7 linked regions of the Homo sapiens genome follow. The protein of the gene in region 1 purifies or fractionates together with the protein of each later gene. This does not show direct contact. Each region holds a gene or a part of one and is shown in the gene's direction. Other genes may lie near its edges.

Evidence for each region.
Region 2: the proteins of PYGB (region 1) and EPM2A purify together in Homo sapiens (affinity purification with mass spectrometry; one large-scale study listed by BioGRID and IntAct). This does not show direct contact.
Region 3: the proteins of PYGB (region 1) and CEMIP purify together in Homo sapiens (co-immunoprecipitation; one study listed by IntAct). This does not show direct contact.
Region 4: the proteins of PYGB (region 1) and SUGP1 purify together in Homo sapiens (affinity purification with mass spectrometry; one large-scale study listed by BioGRID and IntAct). This does not show direct contact.
Region 5: the proteins of PYGB (region 1) and WARS1 fractionate together in Homo sapiens (co-fractionation; one large-scale study listed by BioGRID). This does not show direct contact.
Region 6: the proteins of PYGB (region 1) and PPP1R3F purify together in Homo sapiens (affinity purification with mass spectrometry; one large-scale study listed by BioGRID and IntAct). This does not show direct contact.
Region 7: the proteins of PYGB (region 1) and CDC42BPA fractionate together in Homo sapiens (co-fractionation; one large-scale study listed by BioGRID). This does not show direct contact.

What each region holds. Positions count from the first base shown.
Region 1 is NC_000020.11:25,254,585-25,258,084, forward strand, and holds part of PYGB (glycogen phosphorylase, brain form), read left to right. Parts: intron 1-3,500. UniProt on the Homo sapiens protein: Glycogen phosphorylase that regulates glycogen mobilization. Phosphorylase is an important allosteric enzyme in carbohydrate metabolism. Enzymes from different sources differ in their regulatory mechanisms and in their natural substrates.
Region 2 is NC_000006.12:145,624,805-145,627,520, reverse strand, and holds the end of EPM2A (laforin), read left to right. Parts: coding exon 1-105; 3' UTR 106-1,796; coding exon of another isoform or gene 1,797-1,826; 3' UTR 1,827-2,216; downstream 2,217-2,716. UniProt on the Homo sapiens protein: Plays an important role in preventing glycogen hyperphosphorylation and the formation of insoluble aggregates, via its activity as glycogen phosphatase, and by promoting the ubiquitination of proteins involved in glycogen metabolism via its interaction with the E3 ubiquitin ligase NHLRC1/malin.
Region 3 is NC_000015.10:80,883,870-80,887,369, forward strand, and holds part of CEMIP (cell migration-inducing and hyaluronan-binding protein precursor), read left to right. Parts: intron 1-305; coding exon 306-485; intron 486-3,500. UniProt on the Homo sapiens protein: Mediates depolymerization of hyaluronic acid (HA) via the cell membrane-associated clathrin-coated pit endocytic pathway. Binds to hyaluronic acid.
Region 4 is NC_000019.10:19,300,010-19,303,509, reverse strand, and holds part of SUGP1 (SURP and G-patch domain-containing protein 1), read left to right. Parts: intron 1-61; coding exon 62-162; intron 163-1,121; coding exon 1,122-1,245; intron 1,246-3,500.
Region 5 is NC_000014.9:100,365,348-100,368,847, reverse strand, and holds part of WARS1 (tryptophan--tRNA ligase, cytoplasmic), read left to right. Parts: intron 1-1,804; exon of another isoform or gene 1,805-2,260; intron 2,261-3,500. UniProt on the Homo sapiens protein: Catalyzes the attachment of tryptophan to tRNA(Trp) in a two-step reaction: tryptophan is first activated by ATP to form Trp-AMP and then transferred to the acceptor end of the tRNA(Trp).
Region 6 is NC_000023.11:49,283,293-49,286,792, forward strand, and holds part of PPP1R3F (protein phosphatase 1 regulatory subunit 3F), read left to right. Parts: intron 1-2,541; coding exon 2,542-3,500.
Region 7 is NC_000001.11:226,989,365-226,993,492, reverse strand, and holds the end of CDC42BPA (serine/threonine-protein kinase MRCK alpha), read left to right. Parts: 3' UTR 1-3,628; downstream 3,629-4,128. UniProt on the Homo sapiens protein: Serine/threonine-protein kinase which is an important downstream effector of CDC42 and plays a role in the regulation of cytoskeleton reorganization and cell migration. Regulates actin cytoskeletal reorganization via phosphorylation of PPP1R12C and MYL9/MLC2.

The sequences.
Region 1 (3,500 bases):
ATGTAATTTTAGGTATAGGTAAGTGGCATTTCTCGGCCTACAAACAGTTAAAATGAAAGATTAAAGTAGTGTTTAAAAACGATGACTGGTAGCTCACTAGGTATAAATATAGTTTGACACGGTCCAGATCACTTAGTGTAAGTTGATTAGGCTCTGTCAGTGATAAGGAGAAGGCTCCCATCGCTTTCTGGCTCTGGATTAGTACTGAATAGACTTTTTGTGGAGCTTAATTGCATAGAAGGCGGGAGACAGTGACTTGTGGCAATGTGTGTCATGGAGTGTAGAAGGAATTTGTTTACTACAGAACCAAGTGATCTCTTAAGATCCCCATAAGTTCTAAAGTTCTATAATTCTTTTACATTTGACATTTTCAAAATTGAGCAAACAGACCTGTGTTTGAGTCGTAGGTACTGGAGTGAGAAGGAAATCCACGATCCACGTTGAGAAGCCTGCCCACTGTTCATGGGAAGCCAAGTTTCCCTGGCAGTTAATTCATTAAGAAAGTACCGTGTGACATCACAGGCTGGGAGCTTGAGAGATGTGCTAGCTAATCCTCACATCCTTACAGCAGATACAGTAGTGGATTATCAGATTGCTCTGTGAGCAACTCCCCAGAAGCCCCCTCAGACACAGTGGAGTGGACACTGTGACACTGTCAAGGAAACCAAAGACCAACCTCAGCGTCTGGCAGGTGGGAGGCCCCTCAACATCTCTCCTCCCACAGGACCTCGGTTCCCCTGGATGGTATCTGAGACTGCTCAGCTCACCAGCAGGAGCCAGCAGGTCCAGCCCAGGGAGGTGGCCCCTTTGTGTCTGGAGGGGCTGGGAGCCCCCGCTCCAAGGCCTGGCTGGTGGAACGTGGTGCCCACTGGCCTCTGGCTGGCTCAGTGGCCTGTGTTCCTGTGTCTTATCAGGGCCAGCTCTGTCCATAGTGCCTGGGTGGCAGGGAGGGACACTCTGCCCTGTGAGTCACTCTGTGCCCATGTAGGAACCAGTAGAGGGCGGCTGGTCTGAGGCATGCTGGCACCGACAGAATCGAATACACAAAAGGAGAGTTGCTGTGCTTTCCTGGGGACAGGAGGGGACCGGTTTCAGACCAGATCTGCCTGTAGAATGAGGCTCTTCATCTTGGTGAAAGCAGCCGCCCAACTCTTTTTTTTTTTTTTGAGGTGGAGTTTTGCTCTTGTTGCCCAGGCTGGAGTGCAGTGGCGCGATCTCTACTCACTGCAACCTCCGCCTCCCGGGTTCAGGCGATTCTCCTGCCTCAGCCTTCCGAATAGGTGGGATTACAGGTGTGCACCACCACGCCCAGCTAGTTTTGTATTTTTAGTAGAGACGGGGTTTCATCATGTTGGCCAGGCTGGTCTTGAGCTCCTGACCTCAAGTGATATACCTGCCTCAGCCTCCCAAAGTGCTGGGATTATAGGCATGAGCCATCACACCTGGCTCCAGCTCTTTCTTTTGTTTCCCTGAATGTTGGGAAAGTTCTTTCTTTTTCCACCAGAGTATTAAGACACTAACGTTAAATGAAGACTCTAGTTAAAAATCCCTTCAGAAAAGGGAGAAAAAATTGGTGGTCTCCACAGGCCCAATTCTGTGAATCTCTGTCTGTAAAGAACAAAATGAGGCTCTGCCAGTTGGTGTTACACTCTCTTTTCAGAGTCTGTTAACTCCTAAGGTGTCTTTAGGTGATTGGTATTTGGTGTACTGTTCGTGTTGATCATATTTTCATCTATTTTTGAGCTTTATGTTTTTCTATTATTTGCCTGGTTGTGTAGGCTTTGCATGTGATAAACTCTGTTAAAAAAAAAAAAGTGGAGGGCCTGGCTTGAACCCAGGAGGTGGAGGTTGCAGTGAGCCAAGATTGCACCATTGCATTCCAGCCTGGGCAACAGAGCGAAACTCTGTCTCAAAAAAAAAAAAACAAAAACAAAAACAAAAAACAGGCTGGCTTTAGGCTACTTAACACTTGTTATGTCATATTGCAAGAAGGGACCATGGTAGAAAGATCAATGGCCCAGTTCAATCCCAGGCGGCAGGGCCTCCTTAGAGCAGAGCTGCTGAGCAGGGAGGTTAAGGGATCGTGTTGGCATTTTCAGGCTGAAGCAGGTGAGTCCAGTTCTCCAACCAGCGCTCCCTGAGCAGGGAAGCCCTGTTCATGGTTGCACAAGAGGAGCCAGAGGGGAGTGAGTGGAAAGAGGCTGTCCTGCAGCAGCAGGATTTGGGGTCATGGAAGAGCTAGGTCCCTAGGCTGTTGCTTGGACAAAGCCTATGCCTTTACATGGTTTTTTTCAGAACTGCCACTTGGCAACTTTCTAGGCTTTGCATTTCTCCTTGAAAAGTCTGGTATGGTGAGGGGAACCAGCCTTGCCTGAGTCCTAGCCTAGCCCTGTGCGAGCCCACAGGTGAATGTGGTCCTCTCAGAGGCTGAGTGACTTGCCCAGGTCACCCAGCTAGCCAGGGCAGGGAGCTGGGATGAGACCCCAGCCTGTACCATTCAAGTCTGCATTTTCTTGGCCAGCTCCTCCAGCAAGCCTCTTTTCAGTTTCATGGTTTTCACTCTGAACCATATTAAGGTAAAAGCAAAATAGACACATCTCAGCAAATGATGAAAGTTCTTAAATTGAAACAAGTTGCAGAAAAACCTCAAAGCAGCAAAACACATTGCAGTCCCCAAGGACAGAGCCTGTGGCCCGGCAGGCCCTGGGCAGTGCCTTGGGGGCTGTGCTTCAGCAGGAGGCTGCAGAACCCTCGATGTCTGCATGCAACCTGGACAATTGGAGACGCACAGGCTTCGAGTCTAGGCCCAGCACTTCCCGTGTCAGTCCTGTCCCTTACAAACAGAGATAATCAAGCTCTTGGGACATAACTGGTAAACTTTTTCCCCACAGTAGAAAAGTTCTAAGTAGAAGTTAGGAACTTTTGCAGAGAGAGCAAACTACAACCTAAAAATCCACATTTTAGCCAGGTGTGGTGGCATGCACCTGTAGTGCCAGCTGCTTGGGAGGCTGAGACGCGAGGATCACTTGAGGCCAGGAGTTTGCAGCCAGCCTGGGCAACATAGTGAGACCGTCATCTCTTAAAAAAAAATATACATTTTTAGTTAAAGGCAAAGTAAAAACATTCTGGTCATGTTCCTGGCCTGTCAGCTTTTTATAAAACCTCTTGTTAATACTTGACCCACAGTATTTTCTCAGATAGCCAGGGTCTAGTTGGGCTCAGTATGATTTCGCACTGGTTAATAAACCCTGCCTGGACAGTGCCTGTGGCTTCCTCTGCCAGAGGGGGGAGGCAGGTGCTATGGAAACCCCATAGAATATTAAGTTCGTTCAAATGTAGTGTAAATAAAATCCAGCATGATGAAAGTCCACAAGAGGCCTGACTGTGAGTGACAGCAGCAGTAGTTGTACTTATAGCGGCTATGAGGACTCATTAATTATGCTGCTGTAATTCCTGTGACGTAAAGGACTTTGGAATTTATACAGTAATGTAGAAGCCTA
Region 2 (2,716 bases), on another chromosome or scaffold:
GCCAAGAGGCCGGCTGTCTACATTGACGAAGAGGCCTTGGCCCGGGCACAAGAAGATTTTTTCCAGAAATTTGGGAAGGTTCGTTCTTCTGTGTGTAGCCTGTAGCTGGTCAGCCTGCTTCTGCCCCCTCCTGATTTCCCTAAGGAGCCTGGGATGATGTTGGTCAAATGACCTAGAAACAAGGATTCTACCTGAACTGAAAGGACTGTGTGACCTCCCCCAAGCCAACCACTTTCACCTGGGATGACTTTCGATTATGCTTTGTTTTGGGGCTGTATTTTTGAAATACTCTACAAGAAAGCTGTGGCTCAACACATGAGAAGAAGCACGAAGCAGTTAGGCTGTACATCAGACAGAAGGGTAATGCGTGCAGTTCCTGCTGCCTGCAGGCAGACGAGGCCTTTGCTTTACAGCACTGTATGTGTTGCACGATGGATCCGTGACAGCACTTTCCTGTTGCACTGAAACTCTTGGCCATGTAGAGGAAAAGATATGGAGTTATGTGGATTTCATCACTAGTATGTGTGCGTGAGCTGGTCAGTTGCCAAAGGAGGAAATAAGGTTAGAAGCCTGAACCGTTACAAAAGAAGAGCTCACTATGGTCAAAAAGTGATGGCTTTCAGGACTTGTTTTTTATCCTGCCTCACAGTTGTTAAAGTCTGTTCCAAGGCATCACCTTCCTTCTCTACCCAACAACCCTGTGTAACAACTAAAGTAGAATTATCTCTCATTTGTTGTTGTTTTTCCTCAAAATTACCAAACAAAGCAAAAAATACCCTTGTTTTTTATAGTTGAGATGTCAAGAAGTTAAATTGAGGCTTAATGAGCATAGGTAGCTTGTCCAAGGTCTCATGACCAGTCAAGGGCAAGCTGGAGTTAATAATCTATATTTATTTGACTCAGCACTGTTTTCATCACAACTTGTTTTCCCAGCATCATGTAGTGCATTTAGTTTTGTCTTTCTCAGGGTATAGTCAATATGCCTGCAGGAGTTTCTATAGCGAGACATAGAATAGTATTCTGATCAGTTGCCAAAGAATCTAGGAAATTAGTTGTATTTTGTGCAAGCTAATTTAAAAACATGATGGGCTGTTTTAAGACCAGAGTGGAAATTCATGAGAGGAACTATACTACCAAAAGAGCCCAAATGACCAAATCCATGGATAATTGCTTCACAGCCTTGGCCATCCTGGCTCAGCTCTCAATTTAGTATAATATGCAGTTCCTGTGCCTCCAGACTATGCAGCTCATCACCCTAGGTTCTACAGGAAATACAGAGATGAACAACTTTGCCTTCAAAAATGTGCTGCCTAGAAACAGACCTGCATTCAACCAACTGTAATGCAGGATTGGACCATGAATGATATGCTAGAATAGAAGAAAGAGAAGTGTTTTTTTAATTGAGAGCCTCTATGTGCAAGGTGATATATAATCATATCCAGTTTAATCTTCACAATATCCAATGAAGAAGGTCTCATTATCTCCATGATAAAGATGGGGAAACTAAGGTCAGAAGGGTTAACTCAACTGTCTATTGTCACATGATGAATAAATAGATGAAGTGAGATACAAAGCTGGGTTTGATTCAAAGCCCTTACTTTCCTAATTAAACTATGATGCGTATTTATTTTTCTGCACCTTCCTTTCTTCCACAAACACATATTGATAGATGCAAGAGACTCTTATTTAGAAGGCGTGGGGGACAAGAAGGATACAAGGTAAGTTTCAGTGGAGCTCAGAGGACGGGGAGATAGAACTGTGGCACTTAGGGGAGATGACATTTGCTTTGGGCAGAGGCAGCTAGCCAGGACACATTTCCACTATAATTTTACAAAGTTAAATTTATAAGCTAGCATTAAGTAAAGTGAAGTCCAGCTCCCTTGCTAAAAATAACTAGAGGTAATAATTGGTATTCAGGTAACTCATTTACAGTCATAATGTGTTGTGAAAATTTAATCTTAAAAATTAAATTTTTAAACTATGTGGGTCTGTGAATTTCTTTAATGTCTAAGAAATCCAGCTTCATAATTTCCATGATACAAAGATCTTTTTTCAGGTGGATTTTTACCTTTGTTCCTTTTGCTCTGATAGACAAAATCAGTTTAGGACTATTAAAGAATGTTTTGGAATAAACTGTCTTTTTCCTCAATGAATGGGATGTCTAATGTATTTCAAAATCACCCAAAACTTTTGGCAAATAAAAGCATTTAAAAAGACCTTTCTGTACAGGATTTTTAAAATGTTATCAGCTTAGTCTGAAATCTAGAAGGACAAATTTTGTTTCCTTATTTGTAAAGGGGGCAATCCACTGAGCTAAATTGTTTATTTTTCTTGTCACTCTTCCTCTTTCAATTAAACGATCAAAATTGGCAGTTACATGATAAAGGAAGTCAAAGGTGAAGGACCACAGAGAAGTGAGGATGAAAACTTAGAGTGTGTCTGAGAAAATCAAAGCAGATATTATGCCATTAGCTGCTTGTCACTGGTGTTTAACAAAACTTTTCAATCACGGATTTCTCAAAGGCAATCATGAGAAGATCTCATTCATGGTGAAGGAAAGTCTGAATGAGGTGGTTTTCTTTCAGACTTGAAACATTATCTTTCTATCATTCTGCTTGCCAGCATTAGGAAAAATGTAAAACACAACACAAAACACTCTCTTTTGACCATCATTAAGGTGTGGTAAAAATCACTTGGCTTGGTGTAAGAAATAATG
Region 3 (3,500 bases), on another chromosome or scaffold:
CAAGTATGTGACCCACTCAACATCCTGGAGCTTGAAGTCTTCACTGCTGCAATCATTTCTTTGGCATTTTACTCAGCGAATGAACATTATGGTCAAGTCAAAACCCTTCTTCTTGGATATCACTGTATGGTATGCAAAATAATGAAACTTGTTTGCTCTTTAAAGAAAAGGCTTCCTTCTTTAAGAATCACAGCCCTGGGATCATCGGATAGCATGTTAGCTGTCGCAGCACAGGCATGTGCTTAGAGCTCTTTGTTTTGGCTGCGGTCAAGACTATTCAGATCTCTTCTCTCTGCCCTTTTTAGGTTTGACACCTATAGATCCAAGAAAGAGAGTGAACGTCTGGTCCAGTATTTGAACGCGGTGCCCGATGGCAGGATCCTTTCTGTTGCAGTGAATGATGAAGGTTCTCGAAATCTGGATGACATGGCCAGGAAGGCGATGACCAAATTGGGAAGCAAACACTTCCTGCACCTTGGATTTAGGTACTGCCCCTCACTTCGGCTTCCACTGGGCTCTGGAACATTGAAGCCACTCTATCCCACTGAGAATTTACCTTTCCCATCTCCTCTCCCCACAGCCGTACCATCCTAAATGACCTAGTGGATGCAGGCATTTGCATTTGACATCTGAGTTTGGCATATTTGGGAATTGTTCTTAAAGAATGCTTGTTTTTTCTTACAAGCATAGTTCACTCAAAACAAACAAAAGCTCGCTGTTTATATGAACTCATTCATTCAGTCGGCCACTTACAAAATATTAAGTGAGCATCTACTGTGTGTAAGAGCCATGCCTCCAATGCACAGCTAATATTCATTTTCTCTTTCTTTGGTAAAGAGGTCATGTCATGGCTTGGGGTTTTTCAGAGATTATGTGAAGTGTCTCTGCTGAGGCAAATGACCAAGGAGAAGCAACCCTTTGACATGATCTAATATGTGTTTTGTTTGCCTTGGAGTGCAGCATCATGCCTGACATTGGCATGCACACACATTGACACTAAGAGGAAGCTGTTTGCCCCACAGTAAACAATGCCTTTTTTAAAAATTTAATTTAATTTAAAGTTCCAGGATACATATGCAGGACGTGCTTGTTTGTTACCTAGGTAAACGTGTGCCGCGATGGTTTGCTGCACCTATCAACCTATCACCCCGGTATTAAGCCCAGCATCCACTAGCTATTTGTCCTGATCCTCTCCCTCCCTCTGCCCCTCGCCCCTGCCAAGCCCCAGTGTGTGTTGTTCCCCTCCCTGTGTCCATGGTAAGCACACCTTTTTATCATGTTGAATCAAATCTCAGCTCAGTGGAAAGTTGAGGTTATCTGTCCCATGGCTGTTTAGAGATTACGATGCTCCTCCCTTCAGCTTCCCACATCTGGGAGCAAGATCAGAGGGAAGCCAGAGACTTTTCTGGGCTTGGAGCAAAGCAATTTTGCTGGCTGGGCAGAAATTCCCTGGGCAAGGGAGGGGTGCTCCAGGTTCCAGAGTGCATTTTCCGACAGCCCAGAGACTACTTCTTCTGGACGGGAAACTCAAGCAGGAAACTTAAGCAGCCAAAGATGACAATGACACCTTGGCATTGCAAGCCTCCTTTGTTAGCAAACACTAAGTGCACTTCCATTCTGTTGTTTTATAAACCAAAAGGCCAGTTTATTAATTTACAGTGAGAGTTAGAAACACCAGGAAACTGACTATTTACGGCCTCAGCAGAAGAAGAAAGTGGCTAAGGGCCCAAGATCTGGCATCCAGTGGCCTGAGTTTGAGTCTGGGTTGCACCTTCCAGGAGGTGTGACTGCAGGCAAGTGACTCATTCTCTTTGCCTGGTCCTGCATCTGTAAAATGGGATATACGAGGAGCTATCTCAAAGGACTATAGGACAATTAAATGTGATAATATGAACAAAATATTTGTCATCATGTCTGGCACAGAATAAGCACTCCATAAATGTTAGCAACTATTTTCTCCTTATAAGCAAGAGCCACTGGAAAGGTGGGCACTCGCCGTCTTTTGCCAGGGCTGTTCACATGGGCAAAGGAGATACATAGGTGGGAATTACACGTCCACACCTCATTTGTATAGAGACATTCTTTGAGTGATAAACTTGAAGCATCTAAAATCAGTAGGAGAACTGAGACTTGGACCCTTCATTTGTTCACCCATTCAGGAAATGAACACATACTGGTGGGAGGTACTCGGTTAGACCAGGTGTCCTGAACTCTTGGGGGAAGGCAGGTATGAATGGAAATTGGTGACGGGGCATGAGAGAGCAAGAGAGTGGGCAAGTGTAGTTTAGTGCAGACGAACACATGAGGATGAGGCCAAGCTGGTTCCCATAGAGAGATCAGCAGCTTCGGAGGCCCAGGGGCAAAAGCATGCCTCTCCCAAAGAAGGTGGGGATGGCGAGGCAGTGGCAGTATATGAGAGAGGCAAGGGGTGAGAGGTGAGGCTGGAGGGGGGCGGGGGCAAAGGACCTTCGAATCTGTGCCAAGGAGCTTGGATTTTATCCAAAGGGCAATGGGGAGCTACTGAAGGATTTAAGCAGGAAAGTGGACAGTTAAATCCCCAACCTCAGTTAAACACCGTTCAATAGTGATTCATTTTCCAAGACAAGAGATCAAAACAAGAATAATGAGAGCTATTCAGCACCAAAATCGATTGATAGCTTATAGTAAGAGAGGGCTACTGTAGGGGGGGAAAATCTCTTTCCTTCTACTCTTCTAAGTTCTTGACTGGAGCACCTGCAACAAATCACTGATTAACAGGAGAAAAGCACACAAATGTATTTCAGATAGTAAGTTTTAAACGACATGGGAGCCTTCATAAGGAAACGAGGACCCAAATACACAGTTAAACCTGAGTGTCTGTACACGAGGTTTGATGAAGTGGAGAGCTGTGGGAAAATGTGGTAGGACAAGGGGCTTGAGTTAAACACAGTAAACAGGGGAAATTTAGCAAGGTCTCTGTTCCTTCAGATTCCTCTTGGCTTCCTTCTGTGTTTGGGGATAAGGATGCTCTTTTTCTCAGAATAAGGAAGGCCCTCTCACATAAGGGTCTTAGACCTGCTTCAGGGGAAAGTCAGAAACTCCTTCCTGCCATTTCACAAATTCCTTGAGCTTGAAATATTCAATATGCCAAGTTGCCATTTTGGGGGGTAGCGTCTCCTGAACTTCATTACTGCATTAGGCATTACGCAAAATGCCTAAAACAAAATGGGGTAAGAAAACCTTGCTGCCCTAAAGCAGCACGTGCTTTCATGGAGGAATGATGGATGTACAATTTTTCAAAACCTTAAGCCTTTTTTTGCTTCCCTCCCCATTAAGAAGAAGAGAGATTTCTCTCCTTTCCACGGCCCAAGGCAGATGGCTAGGGCAGTCAGTCATGTTAGCCTCTGGTATTTTCCTCGAGCTCAACTCTAGGGGAGCTGAGCATGAGAGAAATAACCTTTCTCTCTTGGAACATGTTTTCCTGAAGGTATCCAAGCATTTGCTTCAGGACATAATTGAGC
Region 4 (3,500 bases), on another chromosome or scaffold:
GGGATATGCCTGTCACAGATACTTATTTTCCCCTCTCTTCTGCAAACTTCCTCCTCTCCAGATTTTTGCACGATAAGAATAGCAGGGAATTCCTCTACTACAGGAAGAAGGTGGCTGAGATAAGAAAGGAAGCACAGAAGTCGCAGGCAGCCTCTCAGAAAGGTAGGTGGACGGAGCGGGTGGGAGATTCTGGGGAGGCCTGTGGACATACCGTGCCCCAATGCGGAATCGGGGTTCCTGGAGGTGCTGGAGTGGCACTGTGTGGCACCGGTGGTTGAGGCCTGTATTCTCCCAGGCATCTGGGGTCACTCTGGGAATGGGTCTGACACCACCTTCCCCCTCAGTGCTCCAAGGACCTGGTGAAGCCTGAGTGTCAGGCCACATTGTGGGGTAGACGGGAGCTCATGGAGGTCGAGGTCGCTTCTGGGAGAGCGGTTCAGGGCAGTACCCTAGGTAGAGGGGGCTTTTGCTTGTTGGTTCTTTGTTACATTAACAAGTGTTGATGAGCCCCAGCTTCCTCCTGGGCACTGAGGACAGGGCAAGGCAAGTGTAGTGTAGGGCCGAGGGCCTGGGGGACAGACACTGTCAGCTGGTGCAATTCTGATGGGATGAATTTCAGGGGAAGGGGAAATACTGGCTGGTCTTTGACTGCAATGACATAAAATCCCAGCCAAGTGCTGGTGGGTTGGTGGGGTGGAATTGATGTTCAGGCCAAGCGCAGGCTGCAGAGGTTTGTTCCTTGTGTTCCCTGTGGCCCTGTGCCCTGAGCCTCTCCCCAGGAGAGGAGGCCCAACAGCACCCCCTAACCATGTGACCTGGGGTGCTCCCATCTGCCTTCCTGCCCTACCCAGACCCGCAGTCACATTTGGATCCTTTGTCCTGGCTCATGTCCCAGGCCCTCTTGACCTCCCTTGTGGGACGGGGCGGGGGTCGGGGGTGGGGGCTTGAGGTGTGTTATGAATTCTGGCATCTGGTCCCAGTGTAGTAATCTGATTCCCATTTGCCTGTTTCTCTTTGCATCATTCCTAAAACAAACCCCACTTGTTGCCCTTGGGGTTCTTAGCAGAAATTAGGCTGTTGGGTGTGGTGAGTTGAGCCCAGTACTGACAGCCTGCTTAAAGTTTCACCCCCAGAGGACGAAGAGGTCAAGAACCTTGCAGAAAAGTTGGCCAGGTTCATAGCGGACGGGGGTCCCGAGGTGGAAACCATTGCCCTCCAGAACAACCGTGAGAACCAGGCATTCAGGTAAGGGGGGCCCTGCCAGGGAGGTGACCGTCACCCTGGCCACAGTCCCCCTGCAGGGGAGGACACTGGATCAGCATAGTCCAGCCACCTGCTGGGGTCCCACTGTGAGAAGCTGGCAGGTCCAAGAGTCTCTGACCCCAGAGCCCAGCTCTGCCTCCCCACAGGCATGTCCCACGCACACACCAGCACCCCTGGGTAGTCTCTGAGGCAGGTGCACGGGGCCTTTGGGGCCTTTGTGTCTTTCAGGTGCCTCATGGAGAAAGTCTCTAGCACTTGCCCAGTTGCCTTTGGGACACACAGCAGCCCTTGGCCGGGGGCAAGTCAGGCTCTCAAGTGGAAATTCACAGTACTGTTCAGTTTATGTTGTGTACGTTCTCAGGGTCTCCCCTTTATGATGAGGGAAATGGCAGGGAATGGGGAACTTTAGGATCTGTGGAGGGGGAACACCCAGCCTGTGTGCGAGTTCCACAGAAGGGTGGGTGTGTGACAAGCAGCCTAGCCTCCCTGCCATCCCCGGCCATGCGGTCGTACCCTAGCCCCAGTGGCTGGGTCTGTGTTCACTGGCTCATCCATTCATTGGGTGGGTTTGGCACTTGCTCTGTGCCCGGGGAGGCGGGTGGGTGCCTGGGGGATGTGAGGGTGACATGCCCGTGAGCACACGCCTGGCCCCAGGTTACACAAGCCCCGACTCAATCAGTGAGGAGGTGTGACAGCACATGACAGTCCTGGGGCAGCAGCTGTCTGGGCTGGTTGATTCAGCAGCCCTAGACTTCATCACAGATGGGGCAACTGTGCTTCTGTGGTCACTGGCCAAGGTCGTGGAGGGTGGGCAGACATGGCCAGGCCAGGTCCAGGCAGACGAGGGCAGTGGGCCACCATTGGGAGGTGGGACTGAGGGAACATGGGGGCTGGGAACAGGGAGGGTCAAGGCTCAGCTGACCCAGTGAATGGGGACGGGGAGAGGGGCTGCTTGGGATTCAGGTGTGCCCCAGTCTGGTACCTGTGTGTCCAGGAGCCTGTGTTGGGGCCGTGGATTGTTTAGGCCTGGAGTTCAGGAGATGGATCTGCCTGGGACTGGAGGCCCCCCCGACAGGTGTCCTGAATGTCAGACTGGCCCTGGGGATCATTGAGTTGTTGACCACACCTCAGGGTTGGATCACTAGTCCACTCCAAGTCATCATGTCTTTCCTTCATTTGCCTGATTAAGGCTATATAAATAAGAAACCTAGTTTGCTGTCATTGTAGGTAGACACTGACTGTGGAACCCTTTCAAAGGAGAAGCAGGCAAGGATATGGAATTCTGTCCAAGGCCCAGAGCCCGGTGGCTCTGCTTGGTCAGAGGGGTCCAGGGCCCAGCCGCTGCAGCCCAGCCTCACCCCTGATGTCAGAACTGAGAGATGCTATTGGTGCAGGTGGCCCCGGCCCTCCTGTGTGTCCTTTCTGTTCTGGGGTGTTGCTGACAGGCGCCCAGCTTGTCAGGTGTGGCTGTCGGGGAGGCCAGGCTGGTTGAGGTCGCCTGGGGTGGGTACCCCGGGCAGCCAGAGGAGACGAGGCTGAAGGGAGCTCATTTCCGCACTCACTGCAGAGCCAGAGCCGGACCAGGAAAGAACTGGGTGGGTCGGGGGGACGACCAGGTATTCAAGCCCCTGCAGGGTGTGCAGGTTTGCTCCTGTGTTTAATCTCCATGCAGGGTCAGCTGTGAGGCAGCCCCAAAGCACAGAAATGCTAGTTAGACCCACATGGTTGGCAGACCTCCCCTCACCCCCAAATCTAACAGCCGCCTCATGTGGCCACTCCTGGCCCTTCCCTGTCACGCCTGTGGGCCAGGCATACCCCAGCCACTTTGGGAAACAATTTGTAACCAACTGCATGGCTATAAAGAAGCTGGAGGCCTGGTGCGGTGGCTCACGCCTGTAATCCCAGCACTTTGGGAGGCCAAGGCAAGTGGATCACCTGAGGTCAGGAGTTCGAGAACAGCCTGGCCAACATGGCGAAACCCCATCTCTACTAAAAATATAGAAATTAACTGGGCATGGTGTCATGTGCCTATAATCCCAGCTACTTGGGAGGCTAAGGCAGGAAAATCACTTGAACCCAGGAGGCAAAGGTTGCAGTGAGCCGAGATGATGCCATTGCACTTCAGCCTGGGTGACAGAGCAAGACTCCATCTCAAAAAATAAAAAATGAGGCTGGGCTTGGTGGCTCACACCTGTAATCCCAGCACTTTGGGAGGCCGAGGCAGGTGGATCACCTGA
Region 5 (3,500 bases), on another chromosome or scaffold:
CTGGGATTACAGGCATGCACCACCACACCCAGCTAATTTTGTATTTTTAGTAGAGATGGGGGTTTCACCACGTTGGTCAGGCTGGTCTCAAACCCCTGACCTCAGGTGATCTGTCCACCTTGGCCTCCCAAAGTGCTGGGATTACCAGCATGAGCCACCACGCCAGCCTTGGTTATAGTTTTAAATGTATTTTTCCTTTATCAACATTGGGATGCCTGTGGTCTAAAGAGTCAGGGGTTCTCAAAGCCTTTGTGAAATACAGTGGCCCTCCAGCCCACCTCTCCCTATTTCCTGCTCAATTCTTTTAGCCGATCTTTTGGTTATGTACTCCCCATATCTGTAAATATTCTGCTTATCATATTGTTCCTTGTTGATTTTCAAGTTGGGGTCTTTCAGGTGGAAATGAAGCATTCGTACCTTCACAACCACTTCCCGTCCAGGCAGTCTCCCCATCTGTATTGCAGTTGTAGTTAGGTCAGTATCTGTACACTGACATTATTATGACCATGGAAATAGACGTGGACAGCTGAACCATCACGGATAGAATGAGTACTCTAACTTTCTCGCCCAGCTTTTGTTTTCTCTGGAGTTAATATTTGTCTTAATATCTGTTTGCTTGACTTTTTTATGTCAATGATACTAATGATAATGTATCTCCAAGCCCTTTCCCTGTCCAGTGAATCTCCTTTCAACACACATCAACTAGTCTATCAAGTTCATCTTCTTGAGGCGATCTCTCCCAAAACCTTCTGCCTGCTTCCCTCTGAAGTGGGGGCTCTTGCTTCCTACACTGCCCATCTTGGCGTCTTTCTTCACTGTCGACCCAAGGGGTTCTTTCACCCCTGTCGATTGGGTGCCCCGTTTCCTGCTCCTGCATCTTTATTCCTCTTTGCTTTACTCTTTGGGCAGAGCAAATCTTCCAATTGTTTCTGAAAAAAATATTGCAAAGGAAATATTTCTAGGGGGATCTTGCCCATCTGAAAGCGTATTTATTTTACCTAAAACATGATTGATAGCCAGGCTGGGTGTAGGGTTCTAGCATGGAAGTGATTTCCCCTGGAAATGCTGAAGCCACTGCTCTATTGGCACCTAGCTTCTGGGCTTGCTGCAGAGAAGTCAGTTGCCATTCCTTTGTTTTTTCTTTTTGGAAGTTAGCAGGATCTTCTTTGTTCCCGTGTTCTGAAATTTCATGGGATGCAGGTTCAGTATGCCTTTCTTTTTTTTTTTTTTTTTTTTTTTGCCACCCCACCCCCGCCCCCCGAGATGGAATCTCACTCTTTCACCCAGGCTGGAGTGTGGTGGCACAATCTCGACTCACCGCAACCTCCGCCTCCTGGGTTCAAGCAGTTCTCCTGTCTTAGCCTCCCAAGTAGCTGGGATTACAGGCATCCGCCACCATACCAGGCTAATTTTTGTATTTTTAGTAGAGACGGGGTTTCACTATATTAGCCAGGCTGATCTCAAACTCCTGACCTCATGATCTGCCCACCTCGGCCTCCGAAAGTGCTGGGATTACAGGCGTGAGCCACCACACTCAGCCTGCCTTTTAGACTAGAAACTCATGGCCGTTAATTCTCAGAAATCATGATTTCTTTGATCTCTTCTGTTTTCTCTCTTCACAGACTTTTTTTTTTAATTCAGAGACTGTTTCTCTGATTTTCTAACCCTCCTATTGTTTTCCATTTCTGCTATCATTTTTAACTTCCAGGAGCATGTATGCTCCCTGAAGTTTCCTCACAGCACTCTGCCCTGACTCATAGGTACAGTACCACCCTTTTCTCTCTGAGATTTTTTTTTTTAATCTTATTTTACTGTATTAAATCTTACTAATATTCTGTAAGGGACAAACCAGACGAGTAGGCTACAGTGAAGAAATCTTATTTTGGAGAGTTAAGAAACCACTATGATACTTCCAGGTATTATCTTCAGTGATGCTTCTTATCTTTATTCAGGGACTCCAGGTAATATTCAGCTCCTACAGCTACCACAAATGCAGCAAATCCCCATTTGAATCCTTTAAACAATACATCAAAAAAGGAAACACTCTTTGCAAAGCCACCCATGTATCTTCAAGCTTCATTGTGGCCCCACGGATCCCTTAGCCCTTTTTCAGCCAGCTTCTTCTGGATAGTTTCTAATGGTGTCCCTTCTGTCTTCCGTTGTCTGTAATCTAGAAGTTCCATTTTACGATGTCCATGCTCATGTCCATGTCCATGGGCCATGTCTGACAGCAATCTGACCTCTCAGGACACTCAACTCTCTCTCTCTGAGATCTTAATGGTAGTTTTCCATATGTCCTCTACATCCTTTATAACCTCAGTTTCTTCCATCTTAATTTGTTTTCTACCTGCCTTTCATATTAGAGGCAATTCTCAACTGTTTGGTGTTTCTTGGCTATTTGCTGGTGTTTTGGGGGGTGCACTGAAAGCTGCTGGATGCACTCTTCATTGGGGAAGAGCTTATCAACATAGGTTCCACTTCCTGGAGAGTGACCAGGCTGCTCCCCTTTTGTTGGGGAATCTTTCGTGTCAAGGTCTTTAGATCTTTTCTTTAAAGTTAAGTGAGATTCCCCAGAGAAAGCTCCCCCAGTCCACTGTTCAGAGGGGGTGAGTCCCGCTGCCAGAGTTCTACGGCTGAGTGGGAGAGAAGGGCTGGGCTGTGGGATCCTTCCCCGAAGCTCCCTATTCTCTGTGTGCTGCCAGTGCCCCAACTGTGCAGACTGCCCCCAGTCTAGGCACCTGTAACTCTGTCCTCTCTTGACATGAAACCTTGGAATGGAGGGGAAACTGTGACACTCCCTTGGCCGAGGGGAGAGGGATTCTCAATAACTGCTTCTTGAAGAGACTTCAACCAGCGCTCCTGTTTTCATAACCCGCTTTCCTGCCCCCACTCCTGTAAGTGCGCAAGGTCACTAAGGCCCGAACCTTTGGGTGATTCCGTAACAGTGTACACTCGGTCACCTTCCAGTATTTCCATGATGTCTTAGCATTTGTTTTTCTCTCATGCTGTTAGGCACTGATCATTCATCAGCTTTCTGGCTTCTGAAACCTTGTTGCTGTCATCCTCTTCTTGTTTCCTTTGTCCTTGTGGGATTATGCTTTAAAAAAAAAAAAAAAAAAGAAGATCTCTGCTTTTGTTGTAGTAGATTTCAGAAATATCATCATCAATACGCATCTTTAACTAGAACATAAGCATTTCATTTCCTTCTGGGGTGACTCCACTCCGGCTTCTCCATGACTTCCATCACTTTTTTTTTTTTTTTTTTTTTGAGGCTGAGTCTCACTCTGTCGCCCAGGCTGGAGTGCACTGGCACAGTCTTGGCTCACTACAACCTCTGCCTCCTGAGTTCGAGCGATTCTCCTGCCCTGGCCTCGTAAGTAGCTGGGACTGCAGGCGCCCGCCACCACACCCGGCTAATTTTTGTATTTTTAGTAGAGAGGGGGTCTTGCCATGTTGGCCAGGCTAATCTTGAACTCCTGATCTCAGGTGATCCGCCCGCC
Region 6 (3,500 bases), on another chromosome or scaffold:
GTCACCTAGGCTGGAGTGCAGTGGTGTGATCTCAGCTTACTGCAACCTCTGCCTCCTGGGTTCAAGCAAGTACATCCAGCTAATTTTTGTATTTTTAGTAGAGACGGGATCCGTTGCCTTGGCCTCCCAAAGTGCTGGGATTACAGGTGTGAGCCATCACGTCTGGCCAGAAAATTAAGAATTCTTAACCCCACAATACTATCATCACACCTTAGAAAATAAACGGTAATTCCTCAGTATCATCAAGTATTTGGTCAGTGTTCAAGTTTTCTTCTCTCATAAGTGTTTAGGATCCAAACAAAGTTGACATGTTGCATTTGATTGATGTGTCTCTTTAGATTTTTAAAATCTCCCCCACTTTGTTTCTTTGCAATTTGTTGGTTGAAGAAACTTTGCTTGTCCTGTAGAATTTTCCAGTCTGGGTCTGGCTGATTACATCCAGGTGGAAATACATTTCTTACTCCATTTTTATTAATTTATTAATTATATTAATTAATGTAATCTTATTAAATTTATTTAATTTATCAAATTGTATTAAACGAATGTATTTAATCTTTTATTATTAAATTAACTAGAATTAACTCTATTTAATTCTATTATTCCCACTTCCTTTATTAGCTAGAATTCTTCTCTAAAGAAAAACTGTCCCACACCAGCTATTTGGCTACTTTGAGATATAGTTTGTGCAGAAAAAGCAGTGTAAATATTTAATTTTTTCCATTTTATTTACCAGTTTTCAGAGAAGTACTACTACAAAGGTGACCAATAAAAGGATTTTTGGTTTTGTGTCATTATGAACTCATGAATTCTAAACATATTTGAATGAGTTTCAATCCATTGCACTTATTTGTTTGCTTTTTTTGATGCTTAAATTGAACTATCCCTGGCTAGTAGGAGCTTATTGAGATGGGCTACTCTGTCCTTTTGACACGCCCTCATCATTCTGTGAGCCTTTCTCACATCTTCCATGACAATATGTGCTAGGTTCATCCTGTACTCTCCCTGCCCCAAGCCTGGAAACAGCCATTTCTTTCTTGCTTTTCTTTTCTTTATTTTCTTTTTCTTTTTCTTTCTTTTCTTTCCTTTCCTTTCTTTCCTTACCTTTCCTTTCTTTCTTTCCTTTCCTTTGTCTCTCTCTTTCTTTCTTTTCTTTTACTTTATTTTTCTTTCCTTTCTTTCCTCTCTCTCTCTCTTTCTTTCTTTTTTCTTTTTCTTTCTTTTTTTTTTTTTTTTTTTTGAGTCAGAGTCTTTCTCTGTCGCCCAGGCTGGAGTGCAGTGGCACAATCTCGGTTCACTGCAACCTCTGCCTTCTGGGTTCAAGCAATTCTCCTGTCTCAGCCTCTTGAGTAGCTGGGATTACAGGCACATGCCACCACACCCGGCTGATTTTTGTATTTTTGCAGAGATGGGGTTTCACCATGTTGGCCAGGCTGGTCTTGAACTCCTGACCTGCCTGGTGATCCACCTGCCTTGGCCTCCCAAAGTGCTGGGATTACAGGCGTGAGCCACTGAGCCTGGCCAGAAACAGCTATTTCTTTAAGGAGCACTGATTCCTTTCAGTGGAGAGTGGCATTCAAAGGCCAAGATTTGGGGGCTCGGCATGCTTGCTGCTACTAGATTGGTCATTGTTTCTAGGCCCTTTCAAAAGATGGAGCTAGGAAATAATTGTTTTTTAAAGAGAAGATGATACATCATGGGTTCATATGGACATCCTGGCTATGTTTTGGGATTTTTTTGCATTTTATTTTTTTTAAAATTTTTTTAATTTTTAATTTTTGAGGGGACATAGTAAGTGTATATATTTATGGAGATGTTTTGATATAGGCATGCATTGTGTAATAATCACATCATGGAGAATGAGGTATGCATCTCCTCAAGCATTTATCCTGTGTGTTACAAACAATCCACTTACACTCTTTATTTTTTTTTTTTTGAGACAAAGTCTCTGTCGCCCAGGCTGCAGTGCAGTGGCACAGTCTCGGCTCACTGCAATCTCTGCCCTCTGGGTTCAAGTGATTCTCCTGCCTCAGCCTCTTGAGATTACAGGCGCACAACACCACGCCCAGCTAATTTTTGTATTTTTGGTAGAGACGGGGTTTCACCATGTTGGCCAGGCTGGTCTCGAACTCCTAGTTTCATGTGATCCGCCCGCCTTGGCTTCCTAAAGTGCTTGGATTACAGGTGAGAGCCACTGTGCCTGGCTACTTACACTTTTAGTTATTTTAACTGGCTCTGTTTTGAAGGTAAGCCAGCAGTATTTAGTGATGATCATTCACCAAATATTCACACCCACCGAATTCCTCAGCTTTATAATCTGCAAGAAGCCCTGTTTTACTGCATCCAATTGTGTTATTTTACCATAGATGACAGTCTTTGGAGTCTAGACAGTGACAGAGGGCGCTTTAAGGCATTTTTATATAGAAACCCCTGTGGGGCTGGCTGTGGGCTGTCACACTTCTTACTGTCTCTGCTTGTTCCATCCCCTCCTCTGCTTCATTCCCTTGCTTTTTCTCTGCCCCCTTGCCCCGGCCATGGCTCCAGGTTTCTGACGTTCCGATGACTGGCAACCCCGCAGAAGAAGGTGATGTCCCCAGAAGCAGTCCACCTGTGGCTTTTACAGAGGTCCTCCAGGCACCGGCCATCAGGATTCCCCCCTCCTCCCCTCTCTGTGGCCTGGGTGGCTCCCCCAGAGACCAGGCCTCAGGGCCCGATGCGAGCGAGGGGGCCACCGGGCCTTTCCTGGAGCCCAGTCAGCAGCAGGCAGAGGCCACATGGGGAGTATCGAGTGAGAATGGAGGGGGGCTGGAGGCTGTGAGTGGGTCAGAGGAGCTGCTCGGTGAGGACACCATCGACCAGGAGCTGGAGCAGCTCTACCTGTCTCACCTGAGCCGCCTACGGGCTGCTGTGGCTGCGGGTGGGGCAGGGGGTGGTGGGGAGGGCTCCACAGATGGAGGGATGTCCCCCAGCCATCCCCTGGGCATACTGACGGACCGCGACCTGATCTTGAAGTGGCCTGGCCCTGAGCGGGCCCTGAACAGCGCCCTGGCTGAGGAGATCACGCTGCACTATGCCCGGCTGGGGCGTGGCGTGGAGCTCATCAAGGACACCGAAGACCCTGATGATGAAGGGGAGGGTGAAGAGGGGCTCTCTGTCACACCCTCCAGCCCAGAAGGGGACAGCCCCAAGGAATCGCCTCCAGAAATCCTCTCCGGGGCCCGTTCTGTGGTAGCCACGATGGGAGATGTGTGGCTCCCATGGGCAGAGGGCTCAGGATGTGACGGCCCTGTGGTTCTGGGTACAGAGGGTCAGTTCATTGGGGATCCTGAGAAAGGGATGGGCAAGGACACCAGCTCTTTGCACATGAATAGGGTGATAGCTGGGGTGACTGAGTCCCTGGGGGAGGCCGGGACAGAAGCCCAGATAGAGGTCACCAGTGAGTGGGCAGGCAGCTTGGATCCCATATCTGGCAAGGAGCCAGCCTCTCCCGTCCTTCTGCAGGG
Region 7 (4,128 bases), on another chromosome or scaffold:
GGGGAGCTGTAGAAAACACTTGCAGAGCCAGGTTTTGCTGGTTTGGGGCATGCCCTGGGCACCAGAGCTTTAACATTTGAAGCCACTTCAGCAGCAGCAGCAAAAGGCGAACTCATCTCTACCCAAGATGTTTCTTTTCCTAGTGGTGGAATTTGAACACTTCTCACTTTTTATTGTATTTTATCTTCCGCAGATAAATGTAGAAATACACGATTCTGTCACCTCTGATCCCTTCCATCTGAAAGGTTACAAGGAGTGTTGTAGCTTCTGAAGGTGCAGAAAACAATTTCTAAAAATGCTTTTATTCCTGGGCTAATCCTGTCCCTCCCTAAGTCACAGCGAGGTGTCTGTCCCAGGGCTGGAGATGCTTCCCAAGGAGGAGTCTGTTTTGTTGAGAGTGGGCGTGGGCTTCTTCACATAAGCCTGGGGAAGGAAGAAAAAACGGCTTTCATTACCAAATAATGTAAAACCTCAAAAGCAAGGGCTTCAACAGCCTTAACCAAATATTATTCCCCATAGCCAGTGGAAAATGGATGTGACAACCCCAGTGCGCAGGCCAGAGTGAGTGAGCCCAGCACGGCGCTCCGACTGGCTTCCTCTCTCAGGTGCTGGATTGTGGGGTTAGTGGCATTTCCAGCTGGATTCCTCCTGTTGTAGTTGCCATAAGGAAATGAGATGCAGAATCAGAAGGATCTATTTCTACAGAATCATTTCACCAGTTAAGCACATGAGTAGAGAAAGAGATAAAAATAAAAGTATCTCATGAAGGAAAGAGATTTTGCCTCTCTTTTACTTTTCACCTAAGTTTCTCTGAGAAATAGAGACAGGATTCTCTCTTTAAAATTCAGTGAAAATGAAGAAAGTTTTCCTGCAGTTGCTAACCTGAGTTGCAGTGTTTAAGGCCATCATTTCACTGCTGCTGTCTGTGACTCCACGTCTGTGTCACTGAGGTGACCTGCGTGTCACTGAGGTGGCCACCATGCTGGCCTGCGGCATGTGCAGGGAGCTGAGGCTGTTTCCAGGTGATGCTGCTGTGTGGAGAAGGTTCTGAGATGCAGTGAGGGAAGAAAGGATCCTGCTGGGGATTCCATTGTAAGCACCTATAATCGGGAATTTTCATGTAACAGCTTTGACATTTAAACATTCTGAGTTTGGTGCCAGCTCAGATTTGATTATATTTTATTTTGGATGGGTGTAATTCACAGCACAGTTCTAATCTCCCAAATCTTTCTGCTTTTTAGAATGAAGTATAAAAATACTTTTCTCACCTGAATACCAAGGGTTGGCCCTTTAGTTGGATCATTGTCATATGACTTGGTAGATCCTTGTCCTCAGCACCTCACGTGAGAGAAGGGAGTCAGCCAGCCGGCCCCCTGCTTGGTGCTCGTGACCAGCTCGCACCCCTTCTGTCCACCCTTCTCTCCTCTCCTCCCCACTCTCCCCACCCTCCTCACTCTCCCCACCCTCCTCACTCTCCCCACCCTCCCCTCCTCTCCTCCTCACTCTTCCCACCCTCCCCATCCCCACCCTCCCCATCCTCCTCTTCCCTTTCCCCTTGCCTTCTCCTCTCTCCCTTCTCTTCTCAGGCAGGGAGGAGGCCATCCCAAGCCGAGATTAACAGGACTTGACATAAGCCATTAGTTTGTAGCTTTGACAAGTAATTATGAATTTTTGTTGCTTATAGGTGCTTATTTTGCAAAGGATGCTTTTAAGATCAAAATAATAACCCTACCTAAAGTCTAGCTCCACTGCTATGGGTCATACTCTTCAGCCTCCCAACAGGGCAGAGAGAGAGAGCTACTGAGGCTTGTCTAGGTTGCCAGGCTAACTGGGCGACTTGTCCATATTCACCCCATGGATTGCACCATGGCACTCTTTGATTTTTCCACTGCAATGGCAAGTAATCTCATCAGTCATAATAGAGCAGTCCCGAATGCGTGCAGATTCTAAAAGCAGGGCTTTAGGAGAGAAACACTGCCAGGGGGAATAGTTTTGGGGAGGGTTTTCCCAAAATAACGGTCATCCTACTGGGTTTATCCCACCCTTAAATATGAAGCCTGTTACCTCCAGAAGCTTCTGAGAAGAATGATGTGAAAAGACAGGGAGTGGGTTCTAGGCAAAGAAAACATAATGACCATTCAGAGGAGTCAGTAGCACAGCTCACAGATAAAGTATTTTATTACTATCTGAAGTTTTCTTTTGTTTTCATGCAGGACATTTTAAAAACGTATATGGCAGCAGAAACCTGTTTCTCAATAGAAAAAATACATTCAGAGGCATTTCTGGGATAGTCTATCTGTGTTAGTATTTGGTGCTATCTATGTCCAGCCAAGTTATCTACCCTCAAATTCTGACTAATCATGTTTGTGCTTTGGGTATTTAAAATTACATACATATATATTCTTTTTGCCAAAAACAAAAGTCTTGCTTCTTGTCAAATGATTGCTAAAGTAGATCTTACATTTTTTGTTATTATGTATGTATTTATACACATCCCCAACACACTTAGTGATTTCTGTTATTTCCTAGGGAGCACAGCTTTAAGGCTATGAGATACAACTAAAAGGAGCCCATCTATTTGGTTTTCCAGCCAATTATTGTACTCACATTTCAGGGGAGAATCTGAAATTCCTGTCATGTTTACAGCAACAATCTATCATTCCTGGCTAGCTCTCAGCCTCTCTCTCCTTCCATAGGTTAGAATTATGTCATTTTGTTACTTAGTGGCCACGTCTATTTCTGAGAAAGACTGGTTACATTTATGTGGCATCTCAGGTATCATTAAGGAAAAGCCAGAGCAGGGGTGAGCAGAGGTCAAAACCACAGACGCAGCAGGGCCATTTGCCGCCTTTGGCCGGGATCACAACCACTGCAGTCTCCCAGCAGGTAGGCCTTGCCAAGCCTAAGGCTCCCCATCCAATCTAGACAGAGGGGCGCTCAGAGCAGACTTTGCCGTAGCCCATGTCTGGTGAGCACAACAGGGAATGAATTGGGCACTCCACTCCCCCGTCTCTCTGGCCCAGCCCTGAACTAGATGAGCTGCATTTCATGGAGCCCATTTTAAAATCTCTTTCCTTATGACTTTGTTACTCAAGTCCAGAGTTCTCTGTGCACTTCTGCTAGATAAGGAGTGTAAGCCCTGCCCCCCAGCACTGGCAGCACGCTGGGCCCTCCCCACACAGGACACCGTGCAGTTCCGGGGGAAGCTGACTCAAATCAACCTTGAAATCTCATGAAAACAAAATGACTTGTCTTTTTATTTGATAGTGTAATATCATTCATTTTATAAATTTTTTAGGGTTTTTCTCGTAATATTGTACAGTTTTGCATGGCCTGGTGTGATCATTTTTTGGTTAGAATATAATGCTGACAAATGTGGATGGAGGGGAAGATACTGCTTTAGCCTATCACTCCTTATTTTATTTTGTTTGGTTTTATGCCCTCAGTGTCTTAGGGAACTTTTTAAGAGATCCTCTGCTACCAAACAATGATGTGGATTCTTTTGCACAGAAATATTTAAGGTGGGATGGTAAAAAATGTCACAAAAGACTCCTCACCAATACTTTATGTTGATATCACTTAATATTAACCAGACTTTGCTGTATTGCAATAAAACAGAGAACTGTTAGCATTGAGTATTTTGTCTCTTTTCCCCCCACTTGAAAGTCTGAGAAATAGAGAAAGGTGCCACCTCTCCGCCTGTCACTTCTCTTCTTTCTGCTGGCCTCCTTCCTCATCCAGGCTGCTTCTTTATGCCGTAAAAGGACATGGGGTTAGTTTGCCCCTGTGGTTTAATCTAGGACTTTCTTAATTTCTTCCTTAGCTCGGGTAAGAATGATGTTCAATTCTCCTGAAGCTTTCAACTCCCCTCTTCTGGCCAGAACTTCGCTGTTGCTGTTACTTCGGTCCACAAGACCAAACCCTGGCTGCGTGAGGTTTCCTGAGTGGCCCTGACAGTGTGAATGTGGGAGCAGTTTGATTTTGTGTCACTTAAACAAGACGGACTGTTACTGCTTTTCTGGAGTTAGAATGGTTCATCTAAGAACATACAGGGAAGGTCCAGGGGTGGGGTTAAAGGAACTCCTGAACTGGTGGCAGCTAAGTAGTTATTCGGAGAATACTTCCGGT